Homo sapiens: one gene and its partner. The protein of the gene in region 1 purifies or fractionates together with the protein of each later gene. This does not show direct contact. Each region holds a gene or a part of one and is shown in the gene's direction. Other genes may lie near its edges.

Region 1 (3,753 bases):
TTATCATGAAGTCTTTGCCTGGGCCAATGTCCAGAATGGTATTTTCTAGATTTTCTTCTAGGGTCTTTATAGCTTTAGATTTTACATTTAAGTCTTTAATCCATCTTGTATTGATTTTTGTATGTGGTAAAAAGTGGGGGTCCAGTTTCATTCTTCTGCATATGGTTAGCCAGTTATGCCAGTAGCATTTATTGAATAGGAAGTCCTTTTCCCATTGATTGTTTTTGTCAGCTTCATTGAAGATCAGACAGTTGTAGGTGTGTAGCTTTATTTCTGGGTTCTCTATTCTGTTTCATTTGTTAATGATTCTCATTTTGTACCAGTACCATGCTGTTTTGGTTACTGTAGGCTTGTAGTATAGTTTGAAGTCTGGAAGTATAATGCCTCCAGCTTTGGTCTTTTTGCTTAGAATTGTTTTGGCTATCCAGGCCCTTTTTGCTTCCAAATGCATTTTCAAATGGCTTTTTCTGATTCTGTGAAAAATGTTGGTAGTTTGTATATAGGAATAACATTGAATCCGTAAATTGTTTTGGGCAGTATGACTATTTTAACAATATTGACCCTTCCTATCCATGAGCATAGAATGTTTTTCTGTTTGTTTGTGTTGTCTCTGATACAGTGTTTTATAATTCTCATTGTAAAGCTCTTTCACCTCCCTGTTTAGCTGTATTCCTAGGTATTTTATTCTTATTGTGGCTATTGTGAGTGGGATTGCATTCTTGATTTGACTCTCAGCTTGGACATATTTCTATGCATTTCATACGATTGAAATGCTGCTAGAAATGCTGATTTTTGTACATTGATTTTGTATCTTGAACCTTTGCTGAAGTGGTTTATCAGATCTAGAAGCTTTGGGCAGAGACTACAGGGTTTTCTAGGCTTATATTGTCTGTGAATATTGTCTGTCAAACATAGTTTGACTTCCTCTCTTCCTATTTAGATGACTTTTATTTCTTTCTCATGCATGATTGCTCTGGCTAGGACTTCAATACTATATTGAGTAGGAGTGGCAAGAGTGGGCATCCTTGTCTTGTTCCGCTTCTCAAGAGGAACGCTTCCAGCTTTTGTCAATTCATTATGATGTTGGCTGTGGGATTGTCAGAGTTGACTGTTACTATTTTGTGGTATGTACCTTTGATGTCTGGTTTGTTGAGGGTTTTTAACATGAAAAGATGTTAAATTTTATCAAAAGCCTCTTCTGCATCTATTAAGATGATCTTTTTTTAAAGTTTGGTTTATGTGATGAATCACATGTATTGATTTGCATATGTTGAATCAATCTTGCTTCCCAGGGATAAAGCCTACTTGATTGTGGTGAATTCATTTTTTTGCGGGGCAGGGGGGAGGGGGGGTGGGTATTGCAGGGAGCTCCCAACAGGAAACAATGTGGTGGATTAGCTTTTTGATATACTGCTGGATTTGGTTTGCTAGTATTTTGTTTAGGATTTTTGCATCTATGTTCATCAGTGATATTGGTCTGAAGTTTTCTTTTTCTGTTGTCTCTCTGCCAGGTTTTGATGTCAGAATGATGCTGACTTCATAGAATGAATTAGGGAGGAGTCCCTCCTCCTCAAGTTTTTGGAATAATTTCAGTAGGATTGGCACCAGCTCTTCTTTATATGTCTGGTAGAATTTGGCTGTGAATCCATCTGGTCCAGGGCCTTTTCTGGTTGGTAAGTTTTTTTTTAATTACTGATTAAATTTTGGTACTTGTTATTGGTCTGTTCAATTTCATCCTGGTTTAATCTTGGGAGTTTGTATGATTCCAAGAGGTTATCAATTTTGTGTAGGTTTTCTAGTTTGTGTGCATAGTGGTGTTTGTAATAGTCTCTGATTTTTGTTTGTATTTTTATGGGGTCAGTGGTAATATCCCCTTTGTTATTTTTGATTGTGTTTATCTGGATTTTCTCTTTCTTTAGTAGTCTAACTAGTGGTCTACCAGTCTTATTTATTCTACAAAGAACCAACTTTTGGTTTCATGGATCTTTTGTATGGTTTCCCTTATCTCCATTTTGTTCAGTTCAGCTCTAATTTTGGTTATTTCTTTTCTTCTACTAGCTTTGGGGTTGGTTTGCTCTTGTTTTTCAAGTTCCTCTAGGTGTGATGTTAGGTTAATTGGAGATATTTCTAACTTTTTGATGTGGGCATTTAGTGCTATAAACTTTCCTCTCAACACTGGTTTAATTGTGTCCCAGAGATTTTGGTATGTTGTATCTTTGTTCTTATTAGTTTCAAAAAACTTCTTGATTTCTGTCTTAATTTTGTTGTTTACCAAAAAGTCATTCAGGAACAGGAGCATGTACTAACAAGCACATGTAAGTGTGTGGTTTTGAGAGCTCTTGGTATTGATGTCTATCAATAAACTATTTTTGGATTAAGATATGTACACTGTTTTTATACATAATGCTGTCACACACTTAGTAGATCACAGTATAGTGTAAACATATCTTTTATATGCACTGAGAAACCAAAATATTTGTTTGACTCACTTTATTAGGGTGGCCTGGAACTGAATCTGTAATATCTATGAGGTATGCCTGTGCTATAATTTTTCCATGTGATTTAATGGAGTTTTCCAGAAGTGAAATGAGTTACCCAAGGTCATGGAGTTAGCAAATGATAAAGATGGTTTTTTAATTTTAATTTTAATTTTTTAGTATCTGCCTCTGTAAAGATGGGTTTTAAGTTTACATCGGATGAGTGTAAGGCCTGTGATTGTGACACTAGACAACTGTGAATAGTCAATAGCCTGCTGGCTCCTCCGACCTACCATCTGAATCCTCTGAATGTCTATATCAGGGTCAAGATGAAGGAAATGGTCTGACATTTTCAGACCATTTCTTTGTTGGTGCAAGTATAGCCTAAACATTATGAAGAGAGAATTGGTAATATTTATGCACAGATTGAATTATCTGTATTTCTACTTTTATTGGCTTTCCCAAGGAATAAATAAATAAATACTCAAGGATTTAGTTATCATTATGTAACTAATAGTGAATTTCTACAATAGGGAAAAACTGAAACCACCAAGCTTGTCAACAACTGGTGATTAATTGGCAGAGTAATCTACCAATCTATGAAATTTTTGAAAATATTTAGGAGTACAGGAAAATATTTATTGTAAATGTTAAACTTAAAAATAGTCACAGGATTATCCACTATATAAAAATATATATGTACATAAGAAAAAGTCTACTAGAATATATGCACAAATGTTAGCATAGGTTGACAAGATTAACAATTATTTTTAAATTTAATTGTCATTTTCATATTTTTACAAAATTTATGCACTAAGCATGAGTTGCTCTTTTATTAGTACAAGAGCAAAAAATGACATCTTGAAAAGAAATCTTTTTCTTTTTTTTTTCCTACGGAGAGAAGTAAATGATATAAATTGATGAGGGGTCCCAGGAATAGGACAAGGCCAAGAGTATATTGTAAAGTGGGAAGAGGCAAGGAAATAGAACTAGAGAAGAAAATGTTAGGACAATCTACAGGCTTTGCTTCTCTCCCACTTTCCCACTTTCTCATCCCAACCAAACAACTCTGGGAATATTCCTAGACCCAGTCAAGACTTACTCAGAGCCTCTCACAGTCAGCTCAGCTCCTGAAATTTCCCTTCCCATTATGCCCCTCTGCTAGCACTGTAAGGGTATCTAGAGAGAGTGCCTTGGTGATGGGAATAAGCCCAAGATGTATCGTGGCTCTGAGGCCCAGGAAAAGCTGTGGGCTTCACCATCTGGCATACCTGGC
Region 2 (3,653 bases), on another chromosome or scaffold:
TCCTAAAACATCTGTGAAGTGTATTTCTGTAGATTAAATTCTGTTTTCCATTGAATGTTATCTTAATTTCAGAAAATTTCTGTGCAGGGTTATTTTATTAAGCTCATTTTTTTTTTTTTTTTTTTTTTTTTGGTGAGAAAGGCTCAGCAGCTAATAGACTCAGCAACAGGCAGCCAGGAGCTCTGAGGCTCACAGCTGGCAGTCTAGTTCCACTCAGTCTCTACTGGAGAAATTCTTTCTTTGGAAGTACAGCAGAGGCCTTAGGTGAGTGGCTTGTCTGCTATGGCAGAGATTAGAGGTGCTGCCAGACTGCCATAAGTGTTAGGCAGTAACAGCAGCAGCTGCTTATATGCATGTGAACAGCTGGGGAATTAATTTGGTATGCATTCTCAGGAGCCACTCATCTGCTGGCAGAGGTAGCAGAAGAATGCCCTTAGTGTAAGTCCTCTACAACCATACACCAAATGTGCTCCCTGCATTTCAAATTCCATTGTAGAAAGTCTCTGATAATCTCACTTATACTATGAGCCATTCCTCAGTATCTGTCCTCTTCCTGTTAGTGTTCTACAATTCCTTTCTCCTTAATTTTTCTCCGCTTTACAAAATGTCACACAGACAAGTGCATAATACTTAAACAAGCTTTTAAAAATAATGCTCATAAATAGCTTTGGTTCTGTCATAATATTCGTATTTATAAACATTTTAAGTCAATTCTCTTCTTTTGTTTTCATTTCAGAAATATCCATGTCCTGAATAAAAGTTGTGTCTTGATTAGTTTATTATGTAACAATTTAGTGTGTTTGACATTTCTAACTTTTATTTCTAACATTTGCTTTATTATAGAACAATAAACATGCAGTGATTGATTTTTCTTACTTCAAGTGGATGAGTGAGCAAGTGACTAAAATCTTCTGTGAATTATTCAGTGTATGGTGCTTGCCAGTGCATCTGAGAATCTAGGGACTTTCTGAAATAGTACTTCCTTGCTATGAGGACTGAAGTTGCATTAGAATCCTTTTCAATGAAGATCAGATGTCCTGAGTACAATTCTTACTATTGGGTCCTGAATCTTACATTAAATATTCTCTCAAATTCCTTGAGGCATAGCAACTTGAGCTTACCAGTTTAGAAACTGGAGATTTGGGCTGGGCGCGGTGGCTCACGCCTGTAATCCCAGCACTTTGGGAGGCCAAGGTGGGTGGATCACGAGGTCAGGAGATGGAGACCATCCTGGCTAACACTGTGAAACCCCGTCTCTACTGAAAATACAAAAAATTAGCTGAGCCTGGTGGTGGGCGCCTGTAGTCCCAGCTACTCAGGAGGCTGAGGCAGGAGAATGGCGTGAACCCGGGAGGCGGAGCTTGCAGTGAGCTGAGATCGCACCACTGCACTCCAGCCTGGGTGACAGAGCGAGACTCTGTCTCAAAAAAAAAAAAAAAAAAAAAAACAAAACCGGAGATTTGGTTAACAAAATAGTCAAAGTCACTCTTATAGAAGTTTTGTTTTATTTTTTGTTTAAAATTTTTTTACCATTTTGTAGCTGACAAGTACTGACAATAAACTGCTATAAGCATGTGTAGAAAAAGGCTCACCTTGAGTAGTTAAGAGTAAGGAAAAGGAATAGTGTGTAGCATCGTCTTAGTGGTAAGACTTAAGTTGATTTAGTAGCAAATGGAAGTACTAGTGAACCACATAGATTTCAGAAGTAGGAGTAAAAGGTTAGAAGATGTGTCATTTTAATCTTCTCTAGACTTTTTCTTAATTTTTAGAAATGTAAGTGGACTGAACAGAGGAAAACCAAAACACAGCTGGTCAATAATAAGTTAAATTAATTTGACAAACTGCCTACTATGCATTTCATAGCATTTTAAGGACTATATAAGCAATGGATAAGGCAAAAACTCTGCCTTTAAGGAGATCAGTCATTGGGGGGAAACAGAAGCAAACAAACAAAAAGGCAACATAATAGATATTAATATTAATACAAGAATTTTAAAAGCACAGAGTTCTATAATAATAGGAAAATAGAGGGAATGATTGCTCAACTTTTCTTGAAAAAGAGTCAGGAAAATATTGACCGAGAAGACAGTCATTGACCTGAGTCTTAAAGAATGAATAAGGCTTTTACAGATGGAGTAGGGTAGGGATAACTTTCCAGGTATAAGGAAGATTTTGTATTCCAGGGACCTTTGAATTTTTTAGAATGGCTAGAAAACTTGGTATTATGTAGCACAGAAAAAGTGGTATGACTGAAGAGATAGAGAACTTACCACAAAGGGTCTTGAATGCCATGATACATAGTTTGGATTTTCTTCTGTAGGGAGCAAGGAGTTAGTGAAGGATTTTAAAAGCAACATGCCTCTTGGGAGGTAGATTCAATGTGAGGCTAATCTCCGAGGTATAGGAAATACAGGAAGGAGGAGCAACAGGTCGGGTAGTGGTGGAAGCAGGTTTGGAAAATGTGATTAGTTTTGTAAGCGTTTTTGAGTTTGAAGTGCCACTGGGGAAGGCTTTTGGAAATTTATTTCCAGAGTTCAAGACTGAGCTATCATTGCAGTTTGCTCAGCTATTTACTGAGCTATCTACTGTCAATTTGGATAGTATCTACAGTTTGCATTGTAGATACTGGATACTTGGATTGGCTGGTGCACCCTGTTTGTGAGACTCACTGGAGTTTGAAGAGATGACCACTGGAAAATATCCCTAAGCAGTAGCTGCAATTCCACCCCCACCTTGGAGAGCCAAAACCCTCTTCATTTTCACTCTCCTGTCCTTGGTCTTAGGCTACTTAAAGCAGCCTTTAGACATAGGGAAAAATTGAAAGCCTCTCTTTTAAGAAAAACATTAGGTACTTCTGGAATAGAGAGTTCAAGAAATTAGGAGAAAAATGAACTTTTGAAGCTTTTTCTTTCCCTTTTTTGTTTACTTCATTCTCTTACTCAGTTTTAAAATGCTGGTAATGGTCTTTTTTTTCTTTTTTTTTTTTTCTTGGCGATTTTAATGCTTTGGAAAAGATCTCATGGTTTTATCTCCAAAGGAGGAAATTAATTTGATGCCATGGAAATTAGTTTTCTAGTCGTATGCCTTGAATGAGTGAAGAATTTGTTTTTCATGGTGGTACTAAATTTGGGGAAAGCTATAGAAACTTTCATCTGGAAGCTTACACTTTTCCTCTTTTTTGAAAATTTGGTGAGAGACTTGGATATTTTATTGTTTTCTGTAAAAGAGTGTAATTTGTTGTACAGGTCTAATATTGATCCTTTTTTGGAAGTATGGAAAGAATCTGAGTATAAAGCAGAATTACCTCTGGATGGCATGTATTCTCAAGGACACTGTCACAGTGAAACAGTTTATTTAGAAGCTTGTGTTTCCAAAGTGTTGAATTTGATATTCACAAAATTGGCATGTGTAAACTTTATTAAACTTTAAGCTATTTCCTAAGATGAAGATGACAAACTTGGAGGGAAACTTCATTCATTTGGTTTATTTTTATTTTTATTTTTATTTATTTTTATCTTTTTGAGACAGAATCTCACTCTGGTTTGAGACAGAATCTCACTCTGTCCCCCAAGTTGGAGTGCGGTGGTGCGACCTCGGCTCACTGAAACCTCTGCCTCCTGGGTTCAGGCGATTCTCCTGCTTCACCCTCCGAG

What was found. The genes of interacting proteins can lie anywhere in the genome.
Region 2: the proteins of WFDC11 (region 1) and ZNG1A purify together in Homo sapiens (affinity purification with mass spectrometry; one large-scale study listed by BioGRID and IntAct). This does not show direct contact.

Annotation. Positions count from the first base shown.
Region 1 is NC_000020.11:45,668,098-45,671,850, reverse strand, and holds the start of WFDC11 (protein WFDC11 precursor), read left to right. Parts: upstream 1-1,611; 5' UTR 1,612-1,673; intron 1,674-3,753.
Region 2 is NC_000009.12:147,916-151,568, reverse strand, and holds part of ZNG1A (zinc-regulated GTPase metalloprotein activator 1A), read left to right. Parts: intron 1-141; exon of another isoform or gene 142-264; intron 265-843; coding exon of another isoform or gene 844-862; exon of another isoform or gene 863-3,653. UniProt on the Homo sapiens protein: Zinc chaperone that directly transfers zinc cofactor to target metalloproteins, thereby activating them.